Homo sapiens: one gene and its partners. The protein of the gene in region 1 purifies or fractionates together with the protein of each later gene. This does not show direct contact. Each region holds a gene or a part of one and is shown in the gene's direction. Other genes may lie near its edges.

Region 1 (7,026 bases):
TCTAAGTGGGAAGTGGGGGAATTAAGGCATCACAGATACATAACTTCTGAGTTCACACAAGTAGCTGGTGGAGTAGCTGGAATTTGATCACAGGTATTCTGACTACAGAACGTCTGTCTCTTTTGTGTCTTATTTCATTAAAAAATATGGAATGCTGTGGGGCTATTGTGGATTCGTACTTGCTGGTGACCTTGGGGAAGCTCCTCCTCAATTTCCTTAACTCCTTCCTTACTTGTTTTTGTGGGGATTCAGATAATTTGTGAAGCAATCAGATGGCGTATATGTTTAGTAAATTATATGCCTTAGCCTTTTTTTTTTTTTCATTGAGGATGAGGTCATTTGAAAGATTGTTAGCAGTTGAAGGAGGGTGGAAAAAAAAAAGTTCCACATAAGGACACTGCCCAAGCAAAGGTATAGAGATAGGAAAAGCAGAATACATTTGGTAAGGATATATGTTTAAGGACCAGACTGGTAAAGATAGATGGATACAGATTATGGAGATTCTTAAATGTCAGACTAAAGATTTTATATATGATTTTTAGTTAAGAAGAAACTCTCTTTATGGATAATAATTTGTGAACAGGTCCAATGGAAGAGTGGAAGCCTAGAAGTAGGAATACCATGCAATTTAATTATAGTAGTTGAGGCAAGAAGTGATGATCGTAGTGAAGGTATAGATTTGAAAGATGTTGACATTATAATGACATTGACACTGGGAACTGACCAGAGTATAGGCCTAGGACAAATTTTTGGGAGGATAGTGATGTTATTAACAGAAATAAGGATATTATCATGAAGAACAGGTTTTGGTGGAAGGAGATTTAGGAGGAGAGAGGATGATAGGGAGTTTACTTTTGGAGCTGAGGAGTTGTTCAGACGTTTGGAAATGTAGAATGAAAACTGGAAGTTCTGTGTATTCTATGAAAAGGGAAGAGAACAAATGCTTACATTGTAAGGAAATGACCTAAAAGTAACCACTCCTCTGTGGGTCAGAGTTTCACAAGAGGGATGTGACTCCTTAAATTACTCACAAGTACAGATTTCTCAATGAAGATGCACCCATTATTTTTCCCTTTAGTGTATTTTGATTCGTGTCCTGGGAGATCAGGAGGTAAGGTAGTGGGGAGGAAAAACTTTTAGACCTAGCAAGGCTCCCATTTATTCAAAAAATAGCTAGTAAATTGGAGGCTAGGGATTCTCACCGTAAGAATTTTGAGAGTCTGATTTTTGTGTGGTACCAGGCATTTATAAACATATGTTGAATGCTGAATTGTTGAACATTTGAACATCTCCAGATTTGTTATTTTTATTATCCTGTCTTTGTTACCTTGAATTGGTTAATAGCAAAACCTTTAGAATCAGAGACTCTGTGTGCTTGTTATGGGGGGCAACAATGAAAGTCAGGGTGCAGCTAATGAGATTGTATTTTACTTATAGCCAGGATTGTGGAAGAAGACACTCAAAGGATAAGAGGCTTACCATTTTTCCCATTCTGTAAAACCATGTTGATGACAATACCAATTCTGAGAGTTGTTTTGAAATACTGAGTTAATATATGAAAAGGGTCTGGTACATGATAGATAGTAATTGAGATGTTTTTGTTACCAGTATTATTATCTTCACAAGTGGGGGGCAAACACAGAGATCCCAGAACCTATTATAAGAAAAAAAGGAAAACATCTGGAGACCCTTTGTACTTGAAAAAGGGCTCAGGACTAAGTCATAGAAGGACTGTAGGTTTCCTTTCTTGGAAGGTTTTCTAGGGTTTGGTACAATTGGGTAGAGCATGATGTTGAATTAAGTAGTAAAATATATCCATCTCAACTATTTTCAGTTTCCTGTCAAGTTCTCAGTAAACCAACAGAAAAATGTTGTTGAGCATGAGAAGAAGGTTTACTTTTCTTGTCATACCATTTTTGGAAACATTACTTGGATCCTACTACTTAGGGGTTTTTCTGTAGCATTTATTCACTCAAATATTTGTTGAGTACCTTCTTTGTCAGGCACTGTTCTAAAGAGAAAAATCCTTGCCTGCATGGAGCTTATCTGCTAATGGGAGAAATAAGGTGCATTTTCATAATAGACGGTAATTAGATTTTTCTCGTACTATGTATTTGTACCTATTTAAGCAGATGGTAATAATGAATACTATACCAGATTGTAACTAATTTTGCAGAGCATTTGAAGGAAGGGACCATGTCTTTCTTATTCGCATTTGTCTCTCCCTTTTCCCCTTCCTCCCAGTGGAATGGCTTAGATGTGTTTAATGCTCAACAAACGTAGGTACTCATCAAATGTTTATTACAGGGAGAAGGTGTTAAGGCAGAGGCTACATCTTAAAGATTAAAGGAGTCAGTTAAATGTGGCATGTATTAAGGACCCATATACCCCCTAGATTGAGGGTGAGAAGAAGAGAATCCGGCTGGGCACTGTGGCTCATGTCTGTAATCCCAGCACTTTGGGAGGCTGAGGTGGGCAGATCACTTGAGACCAGAGTTCGAGGCCAGCCTGGGCAACATGGTAAAACCCCATTTGTACTAAAATACAGAAATTAGCCAGATGTGGTGGCGTGCTCATGTAATCCCAGTTACTTGAGAGGCTGAGGCAGGAGAATTGCTTGTACCTGGGAGGCGGAGGTTGCAGTGAGCCAAGACCGCGGCACTGTACTCCAGCCTGGGTGACAGAGCGTGACTCTGTCTCAAAAAAATAAAATAAGATAAAAATAAAAAGAGAATCCCCTGGCTTATCTATGAGGTTGGAATAGGAATAAAGTTATATTGTAGCTGAAAGCATCAACATTATGGGAGTCTGGGTGTCACCCAACATTCCCACTAATTAGCTGGGTGATTTTGCATAAATATCTTAACCTCTCAGTTCATTTCCTCACCTGTAAATGAAGTAGTTGGAATTGTCCAGTTAAAATCTGTTTTTACGACTTCTTGTAAAATATCTCTTGCACTAATGTTTCACTTCACTAACGTAGATAATATAGAGCCAAGCATGAGCTTCCATTGAATAAGCATCAAGCTAAATATATACTCTTAGTTAATAAACTAATGTTTAAGAAAAGATGTCTACAAAATTTGTTGATGCTATTTACCGGTAAGATTACATTGTAATTTTTTAAAATAGAGCAAAATATTACCTAATATATAGTTTCCCCCATTGCCATTATGTAAAGGAAAAATAAGCCATAGTATTTTAGACCTTAATAATGGATCATAATACTCACTTTCATACTTTAATTTATACAACAGTCACTTGCCTCTGATATTGTGCTAGATGCTAGGTATTGTATACAGAATTAGAAAATGTATAGCTCCTAACTTTAAGGAGCTTAAGGAATAATGGGAGTGACAGACCATTTAGTTGTGTTGCATTTTGGTGGCATAGAGAAGCATATAATGAGAGTCTGGGAGAAGAGAAAGTGCTCATGGTTACAGAGAAAAAGACTGGAGGAATGGCAAGGGACTAAGCTAAATATACAGAGACGAGCCAGTTTATGAAGAACTTTGTGCTAAACCACAGTTTAGTTCTGAGCTGTATTCTGAAAACTGCTTAATCTGTTAAGGAATTTTATGCAGGCAGTAACATAATCAGGCATTTTTATATCTACCTTTATATTCCTTTTAAGAGAAGGTGTTCCCTGAGGAAGGTATTTGTTATTTCTAGTTGTTTCAACGATGTAGATCTTCCTGAGGAAATCAGTCTTTTTAACTTTGAAATAAAGTCTGAGGAACATTGTCAATTTTGTGGTTATAGAGTTAATAATTATTAAATATTAATAATTATGAAATATTCAGACATTAAAACATTTAAATGTTTATTGCCACATTAATGTAAACTGAAAAGAAAACTGAAATTTTGGGATGTTTTGCGCTTTGATGTAAGAGAGCTCTTGGTCAGCTACAAGAATTTGGCTTAGAATCATTTTTAAGGAGTTAGAAATACGTTGACCTTGAATTGATTGAAAGTGAATGTAGTTCAGGCTCAGTTTCTTTCTTTCTTTTTTTTTTGTTTTTTTAAAGAGACCGTCTTTTTCTGTCACCTGGTATGGTCTCAAACTCCTGGCCCCAAGCAATCCTCCCTCCTCAGCTTCCCAAAGTGCTGGGATTACAGGCGTGAGTCACCACTCCCTGCCCGGGCTCTGTTTCTAATGATAGAAATATCCAGGTAAACTTTATAGAGGGAATGAATTTCCACCGGGAAATAATCCTAGTGAGGAGCTGGTGATAAATGAATATTTCTGAATGAAGTCATGAGGGAGAAACATCTACTTTATTTAGATGTGAAACACCTCATTAAATGTTGAAGAATACTTTATTTGCATACTTACTATGTTTGTCATTTACTCTTTTGACCCTCAAAGAGGAAGAGCTGCTTATAATTTCCACATTTATCCAACATGGATTATAAATGTTAATTGCTTTTTTTGGAAAAAAAATTGAGGTAAAAATTCACGTAATTAACCATTTTAAAGCAATAGTTCAGTGGCATTTAGTACCTTTGCAGTGTTGTGCAACCATCACTTCTGTCTAGTTTCAAAACATTTTTATCACTTTGAAGTAAAATCTCATACCTATTAAGCAGTCATTCCCTGATGCCCCTAGCTCATGGCAACCACATCTGTTTTCTGTTTTTATGGATTTACTTATTCTGGATATTTTATATAAATTGAATTTTCAATATTTGAGTTTTTATCCCTGGCTTCTTTCACTTAGCAAAATGTTTTCAAGGTTTACCCACATGTAGCATATATCAGTACTTCTTTCCTTTTCATAGCAGAAGAATATTCCTTTCCATGTCAGAAGAATATTCCTTTCCATGTCTATATATCAGTTTGTTTATCCATTTATCCATCGATGGATATTTGGGTTGTTTCCACCTTTTAGTTATTATGAATATGTTGCTGTGAATATTTGTGTCCAAGGATTTATTTGAGAACCTGTTTTCACTTTTTCGGGTATATACCAAGAATGGAATGCTGGGTCTTATGGTAATTTTGTTTAGCTTTTTGAGGACCTGCCAAACTGCTTTCCACAGTAGCTAAACCATTTTACATTCCCACTGGCAATGTGTGAGGGTTCCAATTTCCCTACATCCTTGCCTACACTTATTTTCTGTTTTTAAGAAATTATAATTGCCATCCTTATGGGTATGAAGTGGTATCTCACTGTGGTTTTGATTTGCGTTTCCCAGATTACTAATGATTTTAAGCATCTTTTCATGTGCTTGTTGGCCATGTGTGTATCTGCTTTAGAGAAATGTCTATTCAAGTTCTTTGCCCTTTTAAAAAACTACATTGTTGGTGTTTTTGTATTGAGTTGTGTTTTTATATACTCCAGATACTAGACTGTTCATTATCAAATATATAATGTGCAAATGTTTTCTTCCATTATGTGGATTTTTTTTTTCAATTTTTTGATAATGTCCTTTGATAGATAAATGTTTTGAATTTTGATGAAGTCCATTTTATTTATTTGACCCATGCTTTTGGTGTCATATCAAGAATCCATTTCCAAATCCCAGGCCATGAAGATTAACCCTATGTTTTCTTCCAAGAGTTTTATAATTTTACTCCTTATATTTAGGTCACTGATTCATTTTGTGTTAATTGTTGTATATGGTATAAATTCCAACTTCATTGTCTTGCATGTGAATAGTTGTCCCGGCACCACTTGTTGAAGACACTGTTCTTTTGCCATTGAATGGTCTTTGGCATCTTTAAAATCAATTGGCTATAGATGTATCAGTTTATTTTTGGATGCTCAATTCTACTCCTTTGGTCTATATATCTATCACTATGCCAGTGCCATGTTGTTTTGATTACTGTAGCTTTGTGGTAAGGTTTTGAAATTGGGAAATGTGAGTTCTCCAGCTTTGTTCTTCTTTTTAAAAATTGTTTGGCCTGTTTAGGGCCCCTTGCAATTCCATATGAATTTGAGAATCAGCTTTTCCATTTCTGCATAAAAGGCCATAGAAATTTTGATAGGTAATATATTGAATCTGTAGATTGCTTTGGGTAGTATTGCCATCTTAATAATGTTAAGTCTTTGAGTACCTGGATGTGTGTTTGATATCCTTCAGCATTGTTTTTGTGTTTTATAGTTTTCGGTGTACAAGTCTCTCACCTCCTTTGTTATATTTATTCCTGGGTATTGTATTCATTTGGATACTATTATACATGGAAGTTTTTCTTAATTTAATTTTTGGATAGTTCATTGCTGGTATGTAGAAACACAATGGATTTTGTGTGTAACATTTATTGCCTTTAACAGTCATTTACTTTCTTTTTTCCATGTGCAAGCTGAATCACGTGGGTAAATAAGAAAGTGGAAAGTGGAACACTAAAGAACTTGATCTGTAAGATGTCTGATTTCCCTGAATGTGAAAACTATGAAATATGTTTTTAGCATAGTGTTGAACTATTATCTTACTATACTTGGGCTATTCCATTTCTGGTATCACGTTACATATATTTGGTCATTATTAAAGAAGGTAGATCATTTCATTTTCTTTAGGTTTGGAGAGAAGTGTCAATACGTAATTCATTTTCAAAGTTACAATTATTTTGCAACTTAATTTTGATGTTACACAGAAAGCCTCAGGGATAAACCATATTTATCGCAGAGTCTGGTACAGAGATCCATGAATAATAAAGATAAAATTAGAACAGAAGCTAATTTGAATATGTAAATTACCATTAATATACATTAGTTTTTCTGTTTTTTCTTGAAGTTTCCAAATAGCCTTAAAATTTCATTATGAATAGAAATGTGAACAATTTCAACCTCATAAGTAATTAAAGAAATGCAAATTTATGCAATACTTGGATGATTTGGGAAGGGCAGTATTTCATGACACAGACTTTTAATTGAATCCTAGCTTCACTATTTAAGAGGTAAGTATTACTGGGCAAGTAACTGAACACTTAAAACACTTAAAAATAAGAGGAAATATTTATAAAGTGCTTGCTGTGTGTTAGGCACTGTTTTAAGCACTTTATGCTGTTGATCTAAGTTTTTA
Region 2 (7,026 bases), on another chromosome or scaffold:
CTCCCGCTCCCTCTCCTCCAATCAATAAGAAATATCAGCTGTTTAGCAGTAAAGAAGAAAGATGCCCTCAGAATGCTACATCCCGCCCACAGCGCCGGGGACCCCGAGGCAAGGTGGCCAATTCTGGGTCCTCGGCGGACCAGCCCCGAGCGGGCCTCGGAGGCAAGTGTGCCCCTCTGGCCCTCAGAGCTCGCCTGGGTGGTGGTTTGAAAGGAATGGTGCCAAGAGCCTGGCGACTCCAGCTCTGTGGCAGGCCTGCCTGGTTCTTGCGCTGCTCAGGGCCTGGGTCAGGTGGGGGTCGGGCTGGGGCAGACCCCGCCGGGGAACCTGGGGACTGAGGCTGGTCATTAACTGTGGAGTGTCTCCTTTCCTCCCCGCAGCGGTGCAGAGGGGCAGGATGCCGCCGACCCAGCCGACCCACGGGCAGTTCGCGCTGACCAACGGGGATCCCCTCAACTGCCACTCGTACCTGTCCGGATATATTTCCCTGCTGTTGCGCGCGGAGCCCTATCCCACGTCGCGCTTCGGCAGCCAATGCATGCAGCCCAACAACATCATGGGTATCGAGAACATTTGCGAACTGGCCGCGAGGATGCTCTTCAGCGCCGTCGAGTGGGCCCGGAACATCCCCTTCTTCCCCGACCTGCAGATCACGGACCAGGTGGCCCTGCTTCGCCTCACCTGGAGCGAGCTGTTTGTGTTGAATGCGGCGCAGTGCTCCATGCCCCTCCACGTCGCCCCGCTCCTGGCCGCCGCCGGCCTGCATGCTTCGCCCATGTCCGCCGACCGGGTGGTCGCCTTTATGGACCACATACGGATCTTCCAAGAGCAAGTGGAGAAGCTCAAGGCGCTGCACGTTGACTCAGCCGAGTACAGCTGCCTCAAGGCCATAGTCCTGTTCACCTCAGGTAGGAAGGAGCCCTGTCTTCTCGTGCCCACGGGCTCCTAGCCCAGAGCTGGGGCCCAGAGAACTTGGGAGTCCCCAGGGCAAACCCAGTCTGCTCCTTGAAAGGCCAAACTGTTGAGTGCAACTTAAAGTGGGAACTTTTTATAGCTGCTGGGCACTACCAGGCCTGTCCTGGGGAGAGGAGAGGAAGGCTGGATTGCAGGAAGGATGCTTCAGATAGATTCCCCACATGGGCCATAGGGCAGCCTCTGCTGCCTGTTTCCCCCACCTGCAGTATCCAGATTGGGATGCCCTCTCCTGCTCCCTTTCCTGAGCCCAGGCCCCCCGGGCCTGCTGGGCCCCAGGGAATCTCCTCAAGCCCTCGGTTTTCTCTAGCGCCCTGGCTGGGCCTCCAGGAGATGCCCTGGGCAGTGGAGCAGCCCTGACATTGTCTCTGCAGGGAAAAGTTTGCCTGCTAACTCAATAGGAGTTGGAGCTCCAGGCAAATCCAACCTGAGGGCAGCAATTTTCAAAATCATATTCTTACTGGAATAATGCAGACTGCCAGGAGAGGCGAAAAGATGTGTCAGGATGGGGCAACAGGAGGAAAGGGACCGTCATAACTCTTCAGAATGTCTGCAGGAGGTTGAAGACTCTGGCCTCTTGCTTCCCCTGCCCAAGCAAACACTTAAGGCAATTTTCAAACAACCCAAAGTGTATGCCAACTTGGGCTGGATATGGATGTTGCTAGAGATATAAAACCATCATTGACTGCATTATGCAATCTAATTAGTTTGCATGTAGTTTAACCTGTGTGAGTAATAGAGCTGATACTAATTAACTTGAGGCAAAATGATTTTTGAAGGTGTCTGGCTTTCCATTTTGGGCCACACCTGAGCTTTTTGGCTGCCTCCAGGCTGAGTTCAGCATAGCCCAGGTGGATGGAAATCACCAACCCCCTTTCACATTCTTGTACTAAGTTGTCAGCTGATCCTTTTGTCATGGCTGAGAGGGGAAAGGGGTTCCCGATTAAGAATAACAAACATCTGGACGTTAGCAGGGCTTGGAACCTAGTCACCCACTACAATTTTTTAAGCTTGTTAACAGGAAACGAGGAGAGATGTGTAGTTTATGTGGCAAACATAAAGGAGGTCCACAATCTCTTCCTTATTGTTCGAAAGAAGTCTGGGGAACTAAGTCATTAGCTGAACAGCTTGCAGCTTCTTAGTCCTCAAACTGCTGTCTTGTACATTGCTGCTTTCCACATAAAACCTCCCAGCACAGCCACCCCAAATTCTGCCTTTGGAAGTCCTTAGGTAATCAATTAAAGGCCAGTGTCTGGGCAGGGAAGCTGTTTGCAGAGGTTTGGATAGGGATTATTTTTCTCGAGTGCCCCTCATACCTAGAACGTTTGCCTGCTGCAGATATACAGACAAGATATCTCCCTACCTCATAGCCACCTTCACCCCTGTCCCACAACCCAACACCCAGCCCACCTTCTTGGACGATGGAGGTAGTCGTTAATTTCTTGGTATCATTGCTAGCTCTTAGCCTTACCCTTGGTCTTTCAAGGAAAAAAAAATGCCTGATACTGTCGTTAACAGTTTAATTTATGACTATTTGCAAAATGTGGAGGCCTGTGTGGAGAATGCAAATCGCCTCACAAAGAGATAAAGGTTCCTGTTATCTGATTCAGAGGGAGACACACAGTTCCGAGGATGCCGAGGGAAGGAGTCCTGTGCAAACAGATCTTTTAGTTCCTGTCCACAGACACCTCTACATTCTGTAGACATGCAGAGTCCTAGATATACATATGAGGAGGTTGCATGTGTGTTCTGGTTCTTGGGGTGGAGGTGGTGGTGGAGATTTTCGAATATCTGTTTTAATGACTCACAATATGCATATGTTAACCCCAGTCTTGTATGGGGAGCCCTGAAAGGTCAGGTCACAACCTGAACCGCCTTTACCAAGAAGCTTCTCATTTCAAAGGCACTTACTGTATTTTCACGTATCAAAAAAGAAAAGTGTTTTCCTGAAGATAACAGGGAGGGGGGATGCTTCTCGGAGGGACCTGGGTTTTAAAAAATAAAGGGGGGTAGGAGAAAAAGGGAGAGAGAAGAAAAAGGGGGAAAAGAAACAGCTCAAATGAACAGAGAGATCACGGTTTGCATGGCTGCCCTTCAATAGGCTAAACTGACAAGATCAGTTTTAAAGGGCCACTTAAATCAGTTTCAAAGACTGGAGAAAAATGAGTCGCCCTCTTTGGGGGGAATCTGAGGCTGGATCGTGGACGCCATTACTCGGGACTGGGCCAGGTTGTCCACCCCCAACCCCCAACCCCTATATAATTATAAGCCAAACTATTATTTACAGAGGAGGAGGGGAGAGAGTGCTGGTAGTTTTGGTTTCTTCTGTTTACTGACTTGGGCCAGACAGACCCAATGCACTTTTGCTTGGGCCTCTCAATGACCCAGGCTAAGGACTCGGGCAGTGAAAGCCTGTAGCACACTGAGCTATGTTTTATTTTAAAGCAAACACTTCCTCAGGACCATCTCTTGCTCTTTCTTCCCCCACCCCGCCTCCCCCCCTTAAGTTTTCAGTACATAGACATTTGCTCCAACTCCGGTTGGGGCAGTTTGACAGAGCTCTGTGCACACACCTCATGTGACCCAATTCAAACCTCTTAATCTGATGACTGAATTCTTCTTCTTCTTCTTCTTCTTCTTTTTCTTCTTCTTCTTCTTCTGTTTTTAAACTTTCTTCCAGATGCCTGTGGTCTCTCTGATGTAGCCCATGTGGAAAGCTTGCAGGAAAAGTCTCAGTGTGCTTTGGAAGAATACGTTAGGAGCCAGTACCCCAACCAGCCGACGAGATTCGGAAAGCTTTTGCTTCGCCTCCCTTCCCTCCGCACCGTCTCCTCCTCAGTCATAGAGCAATTGTTTTTCGTCCGTTTGGTAGGTAAAACCCCCATCGAAACCCTCATCCGGGATATGTTACTGTCCGGCAGCAGTTTTAACTGGCCGTATATGGCAATTCAATAAATAAATAAAATAAGAAGGGGGAGTGAAACAGAGAAAGAAAAGGCAAAAGACTGGTTTGTTTGCTTAATTTCCTTCTGTTAAGAAAGGATATAAAAGGATGTTACAAGTTTGCTAAAAGAAGAGAGGGGAAGAATTTAATGGACTGTGAATTTCAAAAAAAAAAAAAAAGACTGTCAAATGAACTTTTACAGAATGCATTAAAAAAAAAAAAAAACTCCTGTGTCGGTCAGAACAACTTGCTACTTATCATTTTTGTATAAAAAGGAAATTAGTCTTTTTCTTTTTTTGGTAAATTTTTGAAAAATATTGCTAAAAGTGCATTTAAGGAGATTGGGAGACAATTAGCAGAATGGAGAAAGTAAGTCTTTTTTTTTTCCAAATTATTAATTGTCCTGTGTCTATGTACCTCTAGCTGTTCTTTTTTGTACTTTTCTGGTTCCAAACCAGTTTATTCTGTGGTTCTATAATAAGTTTTGATATAATCTTGGCTTCTTAAAAACTGTGTATCATTAAAATATATGTTCTGCAAGAATTAAAACTGAGTCCATGAAAATACCATAGGAAGACATAAAACTTTAAAAGGCAACTCAAAGATGATGGAAACGCACTTACAAGTGGTGACCAAAATTTTTAGGTGAAGTCGAGCACTCTAATTAGAGAACTGGAGGAACCACATATAACACTTAACTTCCCCTACCCTGCCCCTCCCCAAAAGAAACCATGACAAACCTAGCTTTTAAAAAATATTTTAAGAAAGAGAATGAACTGTGGAATTTATTGGCAGCCAAGGAATGTGTCCAAGACACATGCTGAGGTTTTGAATAAAAAGTGAACTTTTGTAATTTGAATTGGGTCCCGCTTAGTTCTTGAATTGTTATGAAAATCCTATATCTGTTTGTATATTTGCAAACCCTTTGTATTATAATTGTTGATATTTTCCCTTTTTAAAAAATACCATTGAAATCAGCATGACAAAAATAACACTGTTGGCACTTATAGGTAACGTGATTGATTCAGTATCTTAGAGTTTACAGTTTGTGTTTTAAAAAAACTGAAGGTTTTTTTTTTAAGTGCAACATTTCTGTATACTGTAAAAGTTATAATAACTGAACTGTTTGGTCGAGTCTTTGTGTGTTATATTCCAAGGAAAATTGAAAGTATTCAGAAATTAAAATATTATTTGATATCTGAAACCTGGCTGTCCCCACTCACTGTCTTTACATCTAGAAGAGCCCCTGTGAGCTCTCGCTTAGCTGGCCGGGCGGGGGGTGGTGGGGGGGGGCATTTGTTTACTCCCCTCAGTCAGTTTGTTCAAAGGTGGACTACTGTATTTGCCTGTTTAATTTGGGTGTGTGTGTGTTGGGGGGGGAGCTGAAGTTAATGGTTTATCTATGGTTTAGGAAGTGCCATACTGATATAGTAAACCACCCCCATTCACCTAATCCTCCTTTTAATTAAAAATGGATTTTCCAGGAAAAAAAAAAAGGCCCTTATATTTGTCACACTTAAGTGCCTGCTTAGGGAAGGTATTGTGAAAAAGTATTAGAAATCTTGAGATCAGTATCTATTTTATGATCAGAAAAAAATACTCTTTTGTACATTTCTGACAGTTACTCAGAAGATCGTTCAAGCAAGCTAATCACAGCATTGTAACTAGAGGACAGTTGTTTGCAGTGAGTTTTTCCTTAAGTAGGTACGATTTTTTAAAATATTCTGTGATTCTACTCTAGCGTGGTTGTTGAGAGAGTTTCAAATTCAGTGATACAGGTTCTAAGACTGAAAGGTCTACTTTTAATGTATATATGATAACTTGCAGTTGGTTTCCCTCTCCCCTCCCCCCCTTTACCTTCAGTCTGTGAGAGCATGACCACAGGGTCAAGGGAATCTTTTCCATTGGAGTTATGTACATAAAAACACATCGACATTTTGACATTTCAGATTGTGTGGCTACAATCTGTACTGCTCTTGGGATCCTTTGTCCTTAGAAGCCAAATTAAGGAAGAGAAAGCAGGACAGAGAAAAAGAAAGAAGGAAGGAGGGAAACTTTACAGGGTGTGCTGATTTGGAAGTAGTAACTATTTCTTTTGGAGTCTTTTTTTCATTTTTCCTCTTTCTCTTTTCCTGGTTTGGAGGAAGCTCGGTGCTGGGAGCTTGCAATTTTGTTCTTATTCAAGGTTTCCAACCCACCCCCCCACCGCCAGTACTTCATCATGTTGTGGTTTAATTCTAATTGGTGGGGGGGGGGGAGGACTAGTGAGGGAGGTGAAAGAACAGGGATAATTTTGTAAAGTGTATTAAACGTTAATATTCAGATCCAGTCAATACATGCAGACCAGTAAAATCTGATTTGTGCAGAGTTCTCCATCTGACTCTCACTTATTTCTGTAGATATATACATATATAAATACAAGTATGTTCTTACGGCACAGTATTGCTGACCTTTAGTTCGAGGTTTTGTCGGTTGTTGTTGATTTTCTTCCTCTTGCAAGTGCTATCCATGTGAGTGTGTGAAGTTTCTCTAATAAGTAAAACACAGGCCCTTTTCCTTGTTTGTTTTGTGTTAGTTTATTGTAAACAGCCATTTGTTGTAAATTATTATTGGCATTAAATTATAATTTATGATTTTCAAAGCAAAAGACAATCCCTGTTTTATTATGCTTTAAGCATGTGTTCTAGACGTTGGAAATCTCTCTCGCACTCTTAAGTTTAAGCAATGAGCTTGGGGTCTGCGAGGCAGAAAAACAGGACCCAAAATTTTTCAACCGGTTAAAACAAACCCCCTTGTATATGTTTAGAGTGGCCGGAGGAGGATCTGTTTAGAGTCTTGAGTTCGGTTTAAGTTTATTGCATTTAAAGAAAGTTTTTCTTTTCACGCTGAGTTAGAACAAAAGATCTTTGCTGCGACTGAATTGGACAAAAGACGAGGGCTGGGACCCAGCGAGCGCGTTCTGTGTGAAATTGACGAGATCTTTAAAAAAGCTGCTAAACATGGCGACTCTTTCCCTTTAAGTGTCTCTTTTTCCTTGCTGGGTTTTTTTTTTTTTTTTTTTTTCATCTGATCTGAGCTCGCTTTATTTCTTTTCCCAACCCCGCTCCCCC
Region 3 (6,620 bases), on another chromosome or scaffold:
TCCAGGAAAGGAACCCCAGGCTGTGGGGGGCACCCTCTTCCCGGAGCCAGGCTGCGAGCTGCACCACGGTGCACACCCATGGAGTGTAGACCTGGCGCTGCTAGACCCAGCTGGGCCGCCCCGCTGGACGCGGCTCCTGCTTCTGCTGGCATCAGGGCCCCGCAGAGCCTCTTCCCCTGTGGCCTCCCCATGGGATCCTTTTAGCCTTTCTGCTTCCCAGGGAGGCTGAGAACAGGGAGCCTTCTGGGGACCGCTGGGCTCGGGAGCTCAGGTTGCTGGGCTCCTGGAAGGTGACTGTGAGGCCCGAGACTGGGCAGCGGGGCAGGGCAGTCCTGCGGAGGCGGGAGTCGTGGAGGCCCCGTCAGCCCCTCTTCTCTCCTAGGCTCCTACAACCCCCTGACCCTCGGCCTGTTCACGCTGGTCTACTTCTTCCTGGCCTGCTGGACCTACGGGCTCACGGTGTCTGCCGGGGTCTTCATCCCGTCCCTGCTCATCGGGGCTGCCTGGGGCCGGCTCTTTGGGATCTCCCTGTCCTACCTCACGGGGGCGGCGGTGAGTGGGGCCGGAGGGGAGGCTGTGGGGCCCTGCAGCTGAGCCAGGTCTTGCGGCATCGCGGGCCGGAGCAGAAGTCCCAGGGCAGGACAAAAGTGTCGCACCTCACGTGGTTCACGGGCCGTGGGCGTTGTCCTCGCGTGGTTCACGGGCCGTGGGCGTTGTCCTGCTGTGGTGGCAGCGTGTACTGTGGCAGCGCAGCCCATGTGTGGAGTCTGGACCAGGCGAAGGTAGGGGGCGGAGGCTCGTGTCCTTATTCTTGAGAATGTGATGAAAAGCAGAGGTGATTGTGGGCTGCTGCAGAGCTGTTTCTAGACTCCATGGGGTGGATGTCCGGCCAGGGCTGCTCTCTGTGAGGCCGGGGGCCAGAGCGGCATACACTGCCCTCCAGACCTCAGCCCCCGCAGGCCTTCCTTCTCTGCCTGCCTCTGCTGGGACTGGGTTCTCTTATGTGTCTTCTGTTTCTCATTTCAGTCGCTTAAATAAGACTGAAAACCTGTAAGAGGCCCTGGCAGGAAGCCCCCGGCCATGCTTCTCATCCCCGGCAGGAAGCGCCCACTCCTGCTCCCCAGGCCCGTGTGCTCTGCCCATCTCCCTCCGCACAAGGGTTTGGTTTGGTTTTTAAAATTGAAACATGATTCAAATACCGTAAAACTCATCGTTTTAAAGAGGGCAGTTCAGCGGCGTTTCTCACGTTCACGAGGCAGTGCGGCCGTCACTACCACTTCTAGAATGTTCCGTCATCCCAGAATGGAAACCCTGTGCCCACCGACCCTCGTGCCCCGCTTTCTGCAGCCTCCATGCCTGGGTTCTGTGGCCCAGCCTGATGTTCCCGGGGCTCTCTGTGTCGTGTGTGCCGGGGTTTCACTCCTCATGCTGGACGGTGCTCCCTAGTTGGCCTGGGCTGCTGCGTGGTGACTGTGCCCTCTGCATCCTCCATGCCTGCCACTCCCCTGTTGCTCGGGTGCTGAGCGCCTGGTTCAGGCCAAGGATGCAGCCTCCGCAGCAGGGTGTACTGTGCTAGGTTGTTCTGTGTGTATGTACGCGGCCACGAGGTTTGTTCCTGGCTGTGGGGCTGCTGGGCCTGGGCAGGGCCTCCTCCGTCTGTGTATCTTGGTGGGTTTGGGCCTGCCACCACACTGACACCTCCTCCGTGTCACCTCCCACAGATCTGGGCGGACCCCGGCAAATACGCCCTGATGGGAGCTGCTGCCCAGCTGGGTATGTCCCAGCTCTTGCCCGATGGGTGGGGAGCTCCACGGGGTCTGGAGGGGGCCATGGCTGTCCTTGCGGGGCTAGGGTCTGGGAGCAGGTGGATGGGATGGGTGCTGCAGAGAAGGCAGTGGCCACGTGACCCTGAGCCAGGAGGGTGGACGTGCTGGGGTTCATGATGGCTCCCGCAGGCGGGATTGTGCGGATGACACTGAGCCTGACCGTCATCATGATGGAGGCCACCAGCAACGTGACCTACGGCTTCCCCATCATGCTGGTGCTCATGACCGCCAAGATCGTGGGCGACGTCTTCATTGAGGTGCGCCAGGGCCTCGAAGCCTCACCCTGAGAGCGTGGGTGCTGCCATAGGGGAGGGGCCCCTGTGAGCCTCCAAACAGCCGGTCCCGGGGGGTAGGCTCAGGGTTTCTGGGGGCGGCCTCTGGGCTCCCAGGGGTAGGCTCGGGGCTCCAGGGGTGGGTGTGGACTCCTCAAGCCCTGTGTTCCCGCCCCGCCCGCAGGGCCTGTACGACATGCACATTCAGCTGCAGAGTGTGCCCTTCCTGCACTGGGAGGCCCCGGTCACCTCACACTCACTCACTGCCAGGTACAGCGCCCAGGACACCTGTGGGTGGGGAGGGTGTCCAGCGGCCTCTTGTTGCACAGGGGCAGGGTGCACGGCTTGCGGGCTCCAGGCAGCCCCGCGTTTCCTGTCCAGCGGCTTCACACCTCACCAGCCCGCAGAGGTAACTGTGGGAGTTGGTGGCGTGTGACGGGCATGTGTGGCCGGGCTCCTCCGGCAGGGAGGTGATGAGCACACCAGTGACCTGCCTGAGGCGGCGTGAGAAGGTCGGCGTCATTGTGGACGTGCTGAGCGACACGGCGTCCAATCACAACGGCTTCCCCGTGGTGGAGCATGCCGATGACACCCAGGTACCGGGCACCCCATAGACAGGGTCCTGCCTATGTGACCTCTGTCGAGTCCATTGGTGGGAAGCACACGGCAAGGTTTGCAGGATGGGGAAGCTGCACGTTTGGGTGCACTGGCAGTTCCAGGAGTGCCGGAAGCTGAGTGTGCAGCCATGGAGGGCTGTGTGGACGCTGAGGCTGGTGGGGGGGGCTGCGGCCTGGCAGGGTCTTGGGGTTGGCACCCAGGCTGGGCTGAGAGCCGTGGCACTGGGGGCCGTGACTTTGTCAGGAGGCCCTGACAGGACACACAGCTCGGCCACTGCTGTGTGTCTTTTAGACGTGGACACTGGGTGTTTGGAGGTTGGTTTTTATTGGGACCCAGTGGGGCTGCATCTGCCCTGCAGCAAAGCCACCATCCCTGGGCCCTTGGCTCTCTGCTGTGCGCGGTCAGGCCCCGCTACCCTGTCGCCGATCCTTGGGTCCCGTGGCATTGTGCGTGTGGGATGCCATGGCGAGGCTGGTGTGAGCAGGTAGCCACCGACACGGGGCCCATGCCCAGATGGGAAATCTGGCCGGAACAGGGTCAGAGCGGGGCCCGACACAGCATTCCAGCGCAGCCTCCCACCCTCGGGCCCGTGGCCCTGACCGCGGGCCTGTCTTGCAGCCTGCCCGGCTCCAGGGCCTGATCCTGCGCTCCCAGCTCATCGTTCTCCTAAAGCACAAGGTGCGTGCCAGGCTCCGGGCCATTGGGCGGGTGGGGGCCCCGGGGGTGCTGCCTGGGTGCCTGACACAGGGCTCTGCCGCCCGCAGGTGTTTGTGGAGCGGTCCAACCTGGGCCTGGTACAGCGGCGCCTGAGGCTGAAGGACTTCCGAGACGCCTACCCGCGCTTCCCACCCATCCAGTCCATCCACGTGTCCCAGGACGAGCGGGAGTGCACCATGGACCTCTCCGAGTTCATGAACCCCTCCCCCTACACGGTGCCCCAGGCATGTGCAGGGCATGGGCATGGGCGTGGGGCCTGGGACTGAACAGCAGGGGGTGGGGTCCAGAGCCTCGGGGAGGGGCAGCCGGGGGGGGCCACAGCGGAGAGGACTCGGTGACTCTGTCTCCTGTGAAGGGCCTGGCAGGCTTTAGAGCTGAAGTCAAGGGGCTGAGGGGGCTGGCCAGACGGGCGTGGGGGCTCAGGACGTGCCTGGACGCCGTGGTGGGGGGTGCAGGGAGCCAGCTTGGGTGAGGGTCCCGCCTGCCTCTGCTGTGTGGGCGGGCACTGACAGCTGTGCCCCTGCTGCAGGAGGCGTCGCTCCCACGGGTGTTCAAGCTGTTCCGGGCCCTGGGCCTGCGGCACCTGGTGGTGGTGGACAACCGCAATCAGGTGAGCGGGGGCGGTGGGGGTGCAGGCATGCCGTGCAGGGCTCCCCTCTGCCTCCTGCCCGTGCTTACTCTCAGCTCCCGGCAGGGGACACGGAAGCACAGGACCCAGCACCGAGTCGGCCCATGCCCCATGGCTGCACCCCTCCCCAGCCCCGTGCTCAGCTCGGGGGCTGTGCTGAAGCCCCCAGGGCCCCCTGCCTGTGCTGCCCCAGCCACACACAAGGCAGGGAGCTCCACAGGCAGGCGGGAGCCGACCCGTGTGTCACTGTGGCCTGGACTTGTCCTGCAGGTTGTCGGGTTGGTGACCAGGAAGGACCTCGCCAGGTACCGCCTGGGAAAGAGAGGCTTGGAGGAGCTCTCGCTGGCCCAGACGTGAGGCCCAGCCCTGCCCATAATGGGCACTGGCGCTGGCACCCCGGCCCTTCTGCATTTCCTCCCGGAGTCACTGGTTTCTCGGCCCAAACCATGCTCCCCAGCAGTGGCAATGGCGAGCACCCTGCAGCTGGGCGGGCAGGCGGCAGGCGCGGAACTGACCCTCTCGCGGGACTGACCCTGTTGTGGGCAGTGGTCTCCCCCCTTGGCGCCTCCTTGCGCAGGCCCAGCCTCCACTCTCCTCGTCTAGGTTTCTTTACCTCCAGGGATCAGCTGTGTGTGTGTGACCTCCCTACCGGGCTATCGGCCTCTTGGGAGCCAGCGGCAGGGCCGGCACCTGCGTGCCTGTGCCCGTGTGCGTGAGACAGAGCCCTTGCCCCTGCTGCTGCCCCGAGGGCTGCCCTGCCCTGGAAGGGCCCCTCTGCCTCCACACCAGTGGAGTCTTCGAGACTTGGGAGCTGCTTGGCCTCATTTTCAGCCATGAGCAGACGGCCTGTGGTCCCTGGGCCTGAGGCACGGACTCGTAGCACCAGGGTTTGGAGGCTGCGACCGCCCCGGAGAGCAGCTTCACACTGGCGCCACAGAGGAGCCCCACGTGCACTCCCCGGCCTGCATCCGGCTTGGGTACACAGGCCCAGAGGACTGGGGTGACTCACGGGCCCTGTGCTGTGATGTTGAGAGCTGAGAAAAACCTCCAAGGCCCTGAGCCCCATGCCCAGCCCTGCCTTGGTCCCCCAACCCCCAGAGCTTGGAGTCTGGGCCCCACACCCAGCCCTGCCTTGGTCCCTGAGCCTCAGAGCGTGGAATTGCTGCCCTGTGGACACTGGCTGGGAAGGCAGGTCTTCCCCTAGCACATGGGGACCCCGGCCTCGAGGGTGACCTCCCTACCCCGCCCCTGCCAGCCACCAAGCGCAGGTGCAGCGGGGGCCAGACTCCTGCCGGCCTCAGAGGACACCTGGCCCAGCACAGGCAGCTAGAAGGGCCGGTGGGCACCGGGGCCGGGAAGCCCCCACCTCACCACCTGAGGGCCCCTGGGAGGCTCCTCTGGCCTGGCTGGGCTGGGTCTGGGGCCGCCACAGGCCCCTCACGGGGCGGCAGAGGCAACTTCAGTGTCCCTGTTAGAGCAACACGGGTCCCTCCGTGGGGGGCTGGGTGCGGCCCCCTGCCGTGTATTTCCTCCCCAGGGAGTGGGGCCTCCCCGGGAGCTGACGCCACCACCCTGCTTAGCCCTCACAGGGCCCCAAGGTGTCCGAGTGTGTTGGGTCTGAACGCGAAATAAAGAAATCCTCTCAGCCCGCCTTTGCCAGCGTCGTCCCTCCCACCCCACCCAGACCACGTCCAACAGCCTGGGACTTTCGGGACCCTGGGGTCGGGGCACCGTGTGGAGTGAGAAAGGCGTGAAAGACAGCGGCTGCGGCCACCCAGGGCACCAGCCACATCCTCTTCCTCGTCCCCGCCCCTCAGCCTCCCTCCTCTGGCTCCTGGCTGGTGGGTCTGGGGGCAAGGCAGAGGCGCTCCAGGTGGAGGGGGGCGGGCCGGGGTGCCCACGCTGGGGTGACGCAAGAAGAAAACTCCCGGGCCTCAGAGTCGGCGCCGGAAACCTAGGTCTGGGTTTCCCTCGTGGTGGTTGTGTACTGAGGACCTGGAAGTGATCATATTTTGGATATATTCGGTTAAATAAAATCAGCGGTTAGGATTCACATCGCTGCTTCTTGCCTTTTAATGGGGCTGCTGAGCAAGATGGGTTCCCGTGGAGCCCGGCTGTGCCCCTCACCCCGATGGCGCTGCCCAGGCCTCGGGCTCCGCTCGGACGTGGGCCTGGCTGTGTCCGGGGTGTCCTGGGGCTCTCGGCCTCCCTGCTCCCAGCGTCCCTCCCGGCGTGCCCAGGCCTCGTCAGGGCCTCCTTCCCCTCCCTCGGCAGCTGAAGAAGTCCCCTTTGCCAGAGGACACGTGTCTGCGCCCTCTCGGGAGTGGGGCCCCTCAGATCCATCCAGAAGCAGGCAGTTGGGGGGCCCTGCGGGAGTGGGAGAGCTGAGGGCTAGAGTTCCATTGGCAGTTGGGCTGTGAAGCCGTGAGGTTCTGGGGAGAGAAGGAAGGTTCTGGAACGGCCCCGCTGCCCCACACCTGCCTCCCTGGGGACCCTGAGAAGGCAGCCAGACGAGGGCAGCAGCTCGTCCCTCAAGGCCCAGAGCTCTCACGGGACTTC
Region 4 (7,026 bases), on another chromosome or scaffold:
CTCTTGTTCAGCAAATTTCACTGGATTTCCAGCTGCTGTGTCATAATCCCTAGGTACAGCTGTTCTGTCTCTGCCAAAGCTGTTGCTTGCAGGGCTCCCATTTGAGCTGCCATAGCTATCTGAGTTACTGGCATTCCTGATGCCAACAGGGCAGCAACATTGAGAACAAAATCTCTAGTAACTGGAGCTATTTCTTGTTTTTGTTTTTCAATGATTTCTTTTTCTTTTAAAAAATTTTTTCCCAACACCCATCCCAACTATTTCTTTTTCTTGCTGTTCTTGTAATTTCTTTGCCTAGTCCATCCTCCCAGCTAAAGCTTCTTATGCATCCTTTGCTGTGCCTCTGCCTCTGAAGAGAGATGAACTGGAAATCTGGCTTAAACTTCTGCTAAATCTTAGTTTCTCAATGCTCTTCTTTCTCTCTTGTCTTCTGCTTCCTGTACTACTTCTGCTTCTTTCCTATGCATGTCATATTTATTTATTTACTTATTTTTCACACGCAACACAGATGTAGTTTTTATCTTGAACAGGAGCAAGATCTGATCCATGGTTTTCTTTCTTTCTTTTTTTTTTCTTTCCTTTTTGGAGACGGCGTCTCACTCTGTTGGCCAGGCTGGAGTGCAGTGGTGTGACCTCAGCTCACTGAAACCTCCACCTCCTGGGTTCAAGTGATTCTCCTGCCTCAGCCTCCCAAGTAGCTGGGACCTCAGACATGCATCACCACGCCTGGCTAATTTTTGCATTTTTAGTAGAGACAGGGTTTTGCCATGTTGGCCAGGTTGGTCTCAAACTCCTGAATCTCAGGTGATCTGCCTGACTTGGCCTCCCAAAGTGCTGGGATTACAGGTGTGAAGCACCATGTCCAGCCCATGGTTTTCTTTTCCTGCTTCTAGATCATGATCGTTCTTCTCTCTGCTTCTGGATTGAGACTACTTCTTTTCCCTCTACTACGATGATGCCTTTCACGAGACCTGTATCTTGAGTGACTTCTGCTTCTTGATGGCTTTCTTTGTGTTTGTGTCTGTCCTCATCATTTTCAGATGAATGTATTTATTTATTGAGACAGCATGTCACTCTGTTGCCCAGGCTGGAGTGCAGTGGCACAATCACAGCTCACTGTAACCTCTGTCTCCCCGGCTCAAGCTTCTCACCACAGCCTCCCGAGTAGCTGGAATCACAGGCACACACCACCACGCCTGGCTAACTTTTGTGTTTTTTATAGAGACAGGGCTTTGCCATGTTGCTCAAGCTGGTCTCAAACTTGTGAGCCCAAGCAATTTGCCCACCTTGGCCTTCCGAAGTACTGAGACTACAGACGTGAGTCACTGCGCCCAGCCCATTTTCAGATGAATTTAGTCCCTCTCTTCCTTTATCAGAATAATGTTCTTTGTCATTATGCTCCTCAGAAGTGTATTTCTTAGAGGATTTGTTGTAGGATTCCTGTCTTCTTGCCTCATCATGAAATAGGCTTATTATTTTCCTACCTGAGTCTGCAATGTCTTCAGTTCAGCCTCTTTGCCCATCAGCATGCGCTTTGTGTTTTCGTCCTTCGTTTTCTTTCTTGTTTTCTTTCTCTTGACCTTGATTGTGATCTTGAATAATATTTTGAGTAAGAAAAACAGATGCATCTGACAGTTCTTTTTCCACCCACTATCTGGGGATGTCTTTTTCTGGGGCTAGTCCATCTTGTCCTGGATAACTACCCTATCTTGAGAACCCAGTCTTAGTTTCATGAAACATCTTTAATGAAAACAGCCTTTTGGGATGGTGCTGCTGCAAACTGTGGTCTGGCTCTCCTCGCATGTGCTCTGGCTGCCGCAGAACAGAGCTCAGGCCGCTAGGGGGCACCTCCACGTGCCGCTTTTAGCAGTACCAGCCACCTCAAAGCTTTGCCACAGACTGAATAGCTCCTTCCGGGGGCCTGGATGGCACCCAGGGGATCTGCCGTTGCTTTTTTAATTTATTTTTTTACATTTAGCTCATTAATATCTGTTAGATATTTTTATGTCTGCATTGAAATATGTAACTTTATTTTTCCCCCAAAGGATAACTGTTCCAACATTATCAGTTAGCTTGTCTTTTCCCCACCAACTTAAAATACGACTCTTATTTTTAAAATTGCATTTTATAAACATGTATGTTTCAGTAATTTATATTCTGCCCCACTGATCTATATTCCCATCTTAGAATTATACTTTTATTTTATTTTTAAAATTTATTTAGAGACAAGGTCTTGGTATGTCACTCAGGCTGGAATGCAGTGGTGCAATGATAATTCACTGCAACCTTGAATTCCTGGGCTCAAGCAATCCTCCCACCTCAGCCTTCCAAGTAGCTGGGACTACAGGTGTGTGCCACTATGCCTGGCTAATTTTTTTATTTTTATTTTTTTGTGGAGACGATGTTTTGCTATGTTGCCCAGGCTGGTCTCAAACTCCTGGGCTCGAGGGATCTTCCTGTCTTGGCTGCCCAAAGTGTTGGGATTATAGGCATGAGCCACCTCACCCAGCCTTAGTATTATACTATTTTAGTTAACAAAGCTTTACAATGAATTTTGATACCTAGAAAGACTGCACCCAGGTGAAATAAACAGCCTTGTTTCTCACACAAAGCCTGTTTGGTGGTCTCTTCACATGGACACGTGAGACAGATTTCGCTAGGGAAGCAAATAACCATGGAGGTGGGCAAGAAATATCCATGATTGTAGAGCTTTCAATCAGCCTTTTATTCTTGTAACAAATGAAAAACAAAGGATTATCAGACATCTGCGGAAAACCTCTAACATAGAAGAAGGAGATAAAATGAACAAACAATAAAAAGCAACTTAAAAATGGACACCATATAAAGAAAGGAAAACAGTTTAAAAAAAAAAAAAACCCAAAACCCTATTCTTAAGCTACAGAGAAAGCCTGGCCAACATGGTGAAACCCTATCTCTACTAAAAATACGAAGTATTTTAGCCAGGCATGGTGGCACATACCTGTAGTCCCAGCTGCTCAGGAGGCTGAGGCAGGAGAATCACCTGCACCCGGGAGGCTGAGGCTGCAGTGTTCTGAGATCACACCACAGCACTCCAGCCTGGGTGACAGAGTGAGACCTTGTCTCAAAAAAAAAAAAAAAAAAAAAAGCCACAGAGAAATAAGACATTTATTTTAAATAATAATAAGACCCATTTATTAATTAGAAATAAAATAAGACCCATTTATGTCTTATTGCTAAATGGGTGCTAAACAAAAACACTCACAGCCTTGTTGCTCACACAAAATGAACAAAATGGTCTCTTAGAAATAAAAAATGAGAGGAAATGGAAACAAACAAAAACCCACTTCAACTGAAGTATTAGAAAATCAAGTTAATCAATTGTCTCAGAATGGGCAGAGATGGAAAATGGGAGAGAAAAGATGAGAAAATAAGACAGAGGCCGGGCACAGTGGCTCACGTCTGTAACCCCAGCACTTTGGTAGGCCAAGACAGGGGGATCACTTAAGGTCAGGAATTGGATATCAGCCTGGCCAACATGGTGAAACCTCGTCTCTACTAAAAATACAAAAATTAGCCAGGCGTGGTGGTGCATGCCTGTAATCCCAGCTACTCAGGAGGCTGAGGCAGGAGAATTGCTTGAACCCAGGAGGCAGAGGCTGCAGTGAGCCAAGATCGTGGCACTGCACTTCAGCGTGGACAACAGAGCGAGAGTCTGTCTCAAAAAAAAAAAAAAAAGAAGACAGACAGAGGTCCAATACTTGAATATAAGCAGCTCCAAAAAGATTGATTAGGAATGTGGAAAGGAGGGAATTCTCAACAAAATAATTCGATAAAATTTCCCAGAACTGAAGGACTTGAACTGCAGGATTATAAGGGCTTACCAAGTACCCAGCATAGTGATTGAGAAATAGACCCATTTAACTATGTGTCCTTATAGTGAAATATTCTGGCACTGTTAAAAATGTAAAGATTTATGAATGGCACTAATATGAAATTATTGTATGTGGTTTTTGGCATACATGTATATATCTGTTAGATATGTTATCTGGGAGTAGAATTCCTAGATCATAGAGCATGCATACATAATGTCATAGTTTTCCAAAATGGTTGGTATCTGGCAAAATACAGTGCACTGGTTACCAGTCTCAAGAAAGGAATCTAAATGCTCTTGCCCATTGCATCTTGGTATCAGAGTCGGCAAGGAAAAAGTGCAAACACTGGATAAAGCTTTACTTACATAGAGAAGAGACAGAGCAGGATCAGCTCCAATAGTGTGCGTTGGTTCCTCATGGCAAGTGGGTCTGTCTCCCCAGCAGCCGCTGCAGGGTGGTTTGCCTATGAGCACCCATCTTGTGCTACAGTGGAACGGTGTGCCTGGTCTCTGTCACTTGCTGGCCTCAAGTAAGACCCATTTTCATGCAGTGCCGAACAATTCATGACACTGCTGACAATGAGATTGTTTAAATGAGGTCATTGTCTGAGAGAAATTAAACAGTTATAGATAGATACCTAGGTTGTAGTTACATGGTGTGTTCATTCTGAAAATTCATTAAACTGTGCCCTTGTCATTTGTACACTTTTCTGTTATGTTTTATTAAAAGTTAAAAGGTTCTATAGAGAAGTAAGCTCAGGGCTTTTAAAAAAAAATTTTAAGTTGTAAACACGTCAATTAAATTTATTCATAGGAAGGTATTTTGTAGGCTAAATAACTGACCAAAAAAATTAAAAAGGGAAGATGTTTTGAAGTTAATTTTGGCTGAAATTAAAACACAGCTATGTTAACCCTGTAATAATGAAAAATTTTTTGTACATGTATTCATTGAGGACATAGTATTGTAAGTAGTTGGTTTTTTTAATTTGTTATTCTTTTATGTAATTTTTTTTCTTTTTTCTTTTTTTTTTTTTGAGAGACTCTCACTCTGTCACTCAGGCTGGAGTGCAGTGGTGCGATCTCTGCTTATGGCAACCTCCACCTCAAATGATTCTCATTCAAGCTATTCTCGTGCCTCAGCCTCCCAAGTAGCTGGGACTATAACAGGCTCGTGTCGCCACACCCAGATAATTTTTGTATTTTTAGTAGAGATGGGTTTTCGTCTTGTTAGCAAGGCTGGTCGTGAGCTCTTGGCCTCAAGTGATCCTCCTGCCTTGGGCTCTCAAAGTGCTGAGATTGTAAGTATGAGCCACCATGCCCTACCATAAATTAGCATCTTATAAAGGGGGAAAGAGCCACATGTGTCTGCTGGTTGTGTTGCTATGCTGAAAACAAGGTTTTCCTGTCCTAGATTATTCCCTCTAAATCGAGATAAGTAGGGTGATCAGCTAATGCTGGAGACAAAAGGTAGGTGTTTTAATTTTTGAGATTTATCATAAAGTAAATAGTATTGTGACAGCCCCTTTTACTTTCAGATGTGACATTGATAAAGCTGTGAATGTGTTCCTATTTCTCTTCTTTATCTATTTCTCCTTGTTTTCTAGGTTTTTGTGGAAACTCTGGATAAGTGTTTCGAAAATGTGTGTGAATTGGATTTGATCTTCCATATGGATAAGGTATATTCTCTTGCAGTTCTCTTCCAAACTAGGGTTACTAGAAAACCAAGAGCCTTGGGCATCTGTAGCCACCTCTACATCTTCATATTGTTTCTTGTTTTTTTTTACTCTTAAGATAGTCCTAGAACATGTTTTATTTAATAGATTTAATAGTTTGGGTTTTGTTTTGTTTTTGCTAAGATCTACTAACAGTTTTAACGTGCATAAGATTATTACTAGGCCTATATCGTGGTTCATCTGTTCACAGACTGATTTCTTGATATAGGAGAATGATGTCACTGGCTACTTGGCCAAAGGTGAGATAAATAGTTTTATGCTGATTATAAAATTAGTTTCCTAGTCATAGGCCAGTGACAATGAAACTTTGGAATAATCATGACGCAGGGGCTTTGACTTAGATAGTAAAATTTATATCTTTCCTAAAGAGTAATATAGTGACTAAGAGATCTGTAATGTAATTCAAGGTCAGGTGATATTCTATAGGAAGGTAGACTATCAGAGGCAGAATTAAAATGGCCCCAAGTAGGTGTTCTCAGATTTGTTTTGCTAGGATAACTGTGACATGGCCTATGTCCTCATATGCCAAATTAAACTTGGGCAATAGCCAGCAAGGGAATAGGAATTGCCATGTTTATTTTATTCAACTTACCACATGCTGTCCCCTGTGCAGTTTACTGGTGCGTCTTTGGTTTGCTTGGTCCTGGTTTTTCTTCAACTGATTGTTGTCATTATGATCCCTGGCCCTTGGAGAGAGATGATTTTTTAGGAGACTGCTGCTCATTGCTAAGCCATGATCCTTTATTAACCTTTTCATCATGATGAAGTAGGAGTTTTTAGATCCATCGTTGCTAGCATTGCTGTCTAAAGGACTTTCTTGTTGTTTTTCAATAGGGTCTTCAGTCTTAGTTGACTCTGTTGAGGTTGGCAGATCCCCACTTTCCAGGCTAATGTAGTGAATGCATTCTTGAGTTTGGATGACATTAGAATGGAGTAAAGTTTTGTCTCTCACCATCTGACATGGCTCTGTGACTCTATCAGCATCCTAGTGCAGGAACATCATGGAACCCTTTTCCTTCTTTAGATACTTAACTTTGGACTCCCTGACAACCTCACGGGGCTTCCAGTATTTACTGATGCTTTTGAGTCACCCTCCCTTTCATATGAAAGGGTTGTATACTTTTTGGAAACTTCAGCGATCTCTTAGCACCCTTTCTTTGCAAGCACTTAGAGTTGTTTTGTACTTTTCATATGTTAAAGATTTGCTATTTTGCAACTTCTGTCAAGGAGAGCCATAGCTCAAATCTAGTTCCCTTTTGTACTAGAGGAACTAGAGTCCCTTTCAAGTATTAAAGAGACTTGAAAATATAGGGGGAATGGAGAGGTGCCTTCTGTAGGCCTTATTGTTATGATTTTAAAATAATATTGTTAAATACAGGCCGGGCGTCGTGGCTCACACCTGTAATCCCAGCACTTTGGGAGGCTGAGGTGGGCAGATCA

The links.
Region 2: the proteins of RNF13 (region 1) and NR2F2 purify together in Homo sapiens (affinity purification with mass spectrometry; 3 studies listed by BioGRID and IntAct, with this or other methods). This does not show direct contact.
Region 3: the proteins of RNF13 (region 1) and CLCN7 purify together in Homo sapiens (affinity purification with mass spectrometry; 3 studies listed by BioGRID and IntAct, with this or other methods). This does not show direct contact.
Region 4: the proteins of RNF13 (region 1) and AP3S2 purify together in Homo sapiens (affinity purification with mass spectrometry; 3 studies listed by BioGRID and IntAct, with this or other methods). This does not show direct contact.

What each region holds. Positions count from the first base shown.
Region 1 is NC_000003.12:149,816,211-149,823,236, forward strand, and holds part of RNF13 (E3 ubiquitin-protein ligase RNF13 isoform 1 precursor), read left to right. Parts: intron 1-1,076; exon of another isoform or gene 1,077-6,363; intron 6,364-7,026. UniProt on the Homo sapiens protein: E3 ubiquitin-protein ligase that regulates cell proliferation. Involved in apoptosis regulation. Mediates ER stress-induced activation of JNK signaling pathway and apoptosis by promoting ERN1 activation and splicing of XBP1 mRNA.
Region 2 is NC_000015.10:96,333,696-96,340,721, forward strand, and holds the end of NR2F2 (COUP transcription factor 2), read left to right. Parts: intron 1-69; exon of another isoform or gene 70-162; intron 163-380; coding exon 381-908; intron 909-3,652; coding exon 3,653-3,927; 3' UTR 3,928-6,563; downstream 6,564-7,026. UniProt on the Homo sapiens protein: Ligand-activated transcription factor. Activated by high concentrations of 9-cis-retinoic acid and all-trans-retinoic acid, but not by dexamethasone, cortisol or progesterone (in vitro). Regulation of the apolipoprotein A-I gene transcription.
Region 3 is NC_000016.10:1,444,429-1,451,048, reverse strand, and holds the end of CLCN7 (H(+)/Cl(-) exchange transporter 7), read left to right. Parts: intron 1-382; coding exon 383-552; intron 553-1,721; coding exon 1,722-1,773; intron 1,774-1,955; coding exon 1,956-2,083; intron 2,084-2,282; coding exon 2,283-2,368; intron 2,369-2,564; coding exon 2,565-2,694; intron 2,695-3,334; coding exon 3,335-3,394; intron 3,395-3,480; coding exon 3,481-3,657; intron 3,658-3,962; coding exon 3,963-4,043; intron 4,044-4,331; coding exon 4,332-4,418; 3' UTR 4,419-6,114; downstream 6,115-6,620. UniProt on the Homo sapiens protein: Slowly voltage-gated channel mediating the exchange of chloride ions against protons. Functions as antiporter and contributes to the acidification of the lysosome lumen and may be involved in maintaining lysosomal pH.
Region 4 is NC_000015.10:89,869,978-89,877,003, reverse strand, and holds part of AP3S2 (AP-3 complex subunit sigma-2), read left to right. Parts: exon of another isoform or gene 1-211; intron 212-5,457; coding exon 5,458-5,529; intron 5,530-7,026. Other genes in the region: ARPIN-AP3S2 (uncharacterized protein LOC100526783), read left to right, coding at 5,458-5,529. UniProt on the Homo sapiens protein: Part of the AP-3 complex, an adaptor-related complex which is not clathrin-associated. The complex is associated with the Golgi region as well as more peripheral structures.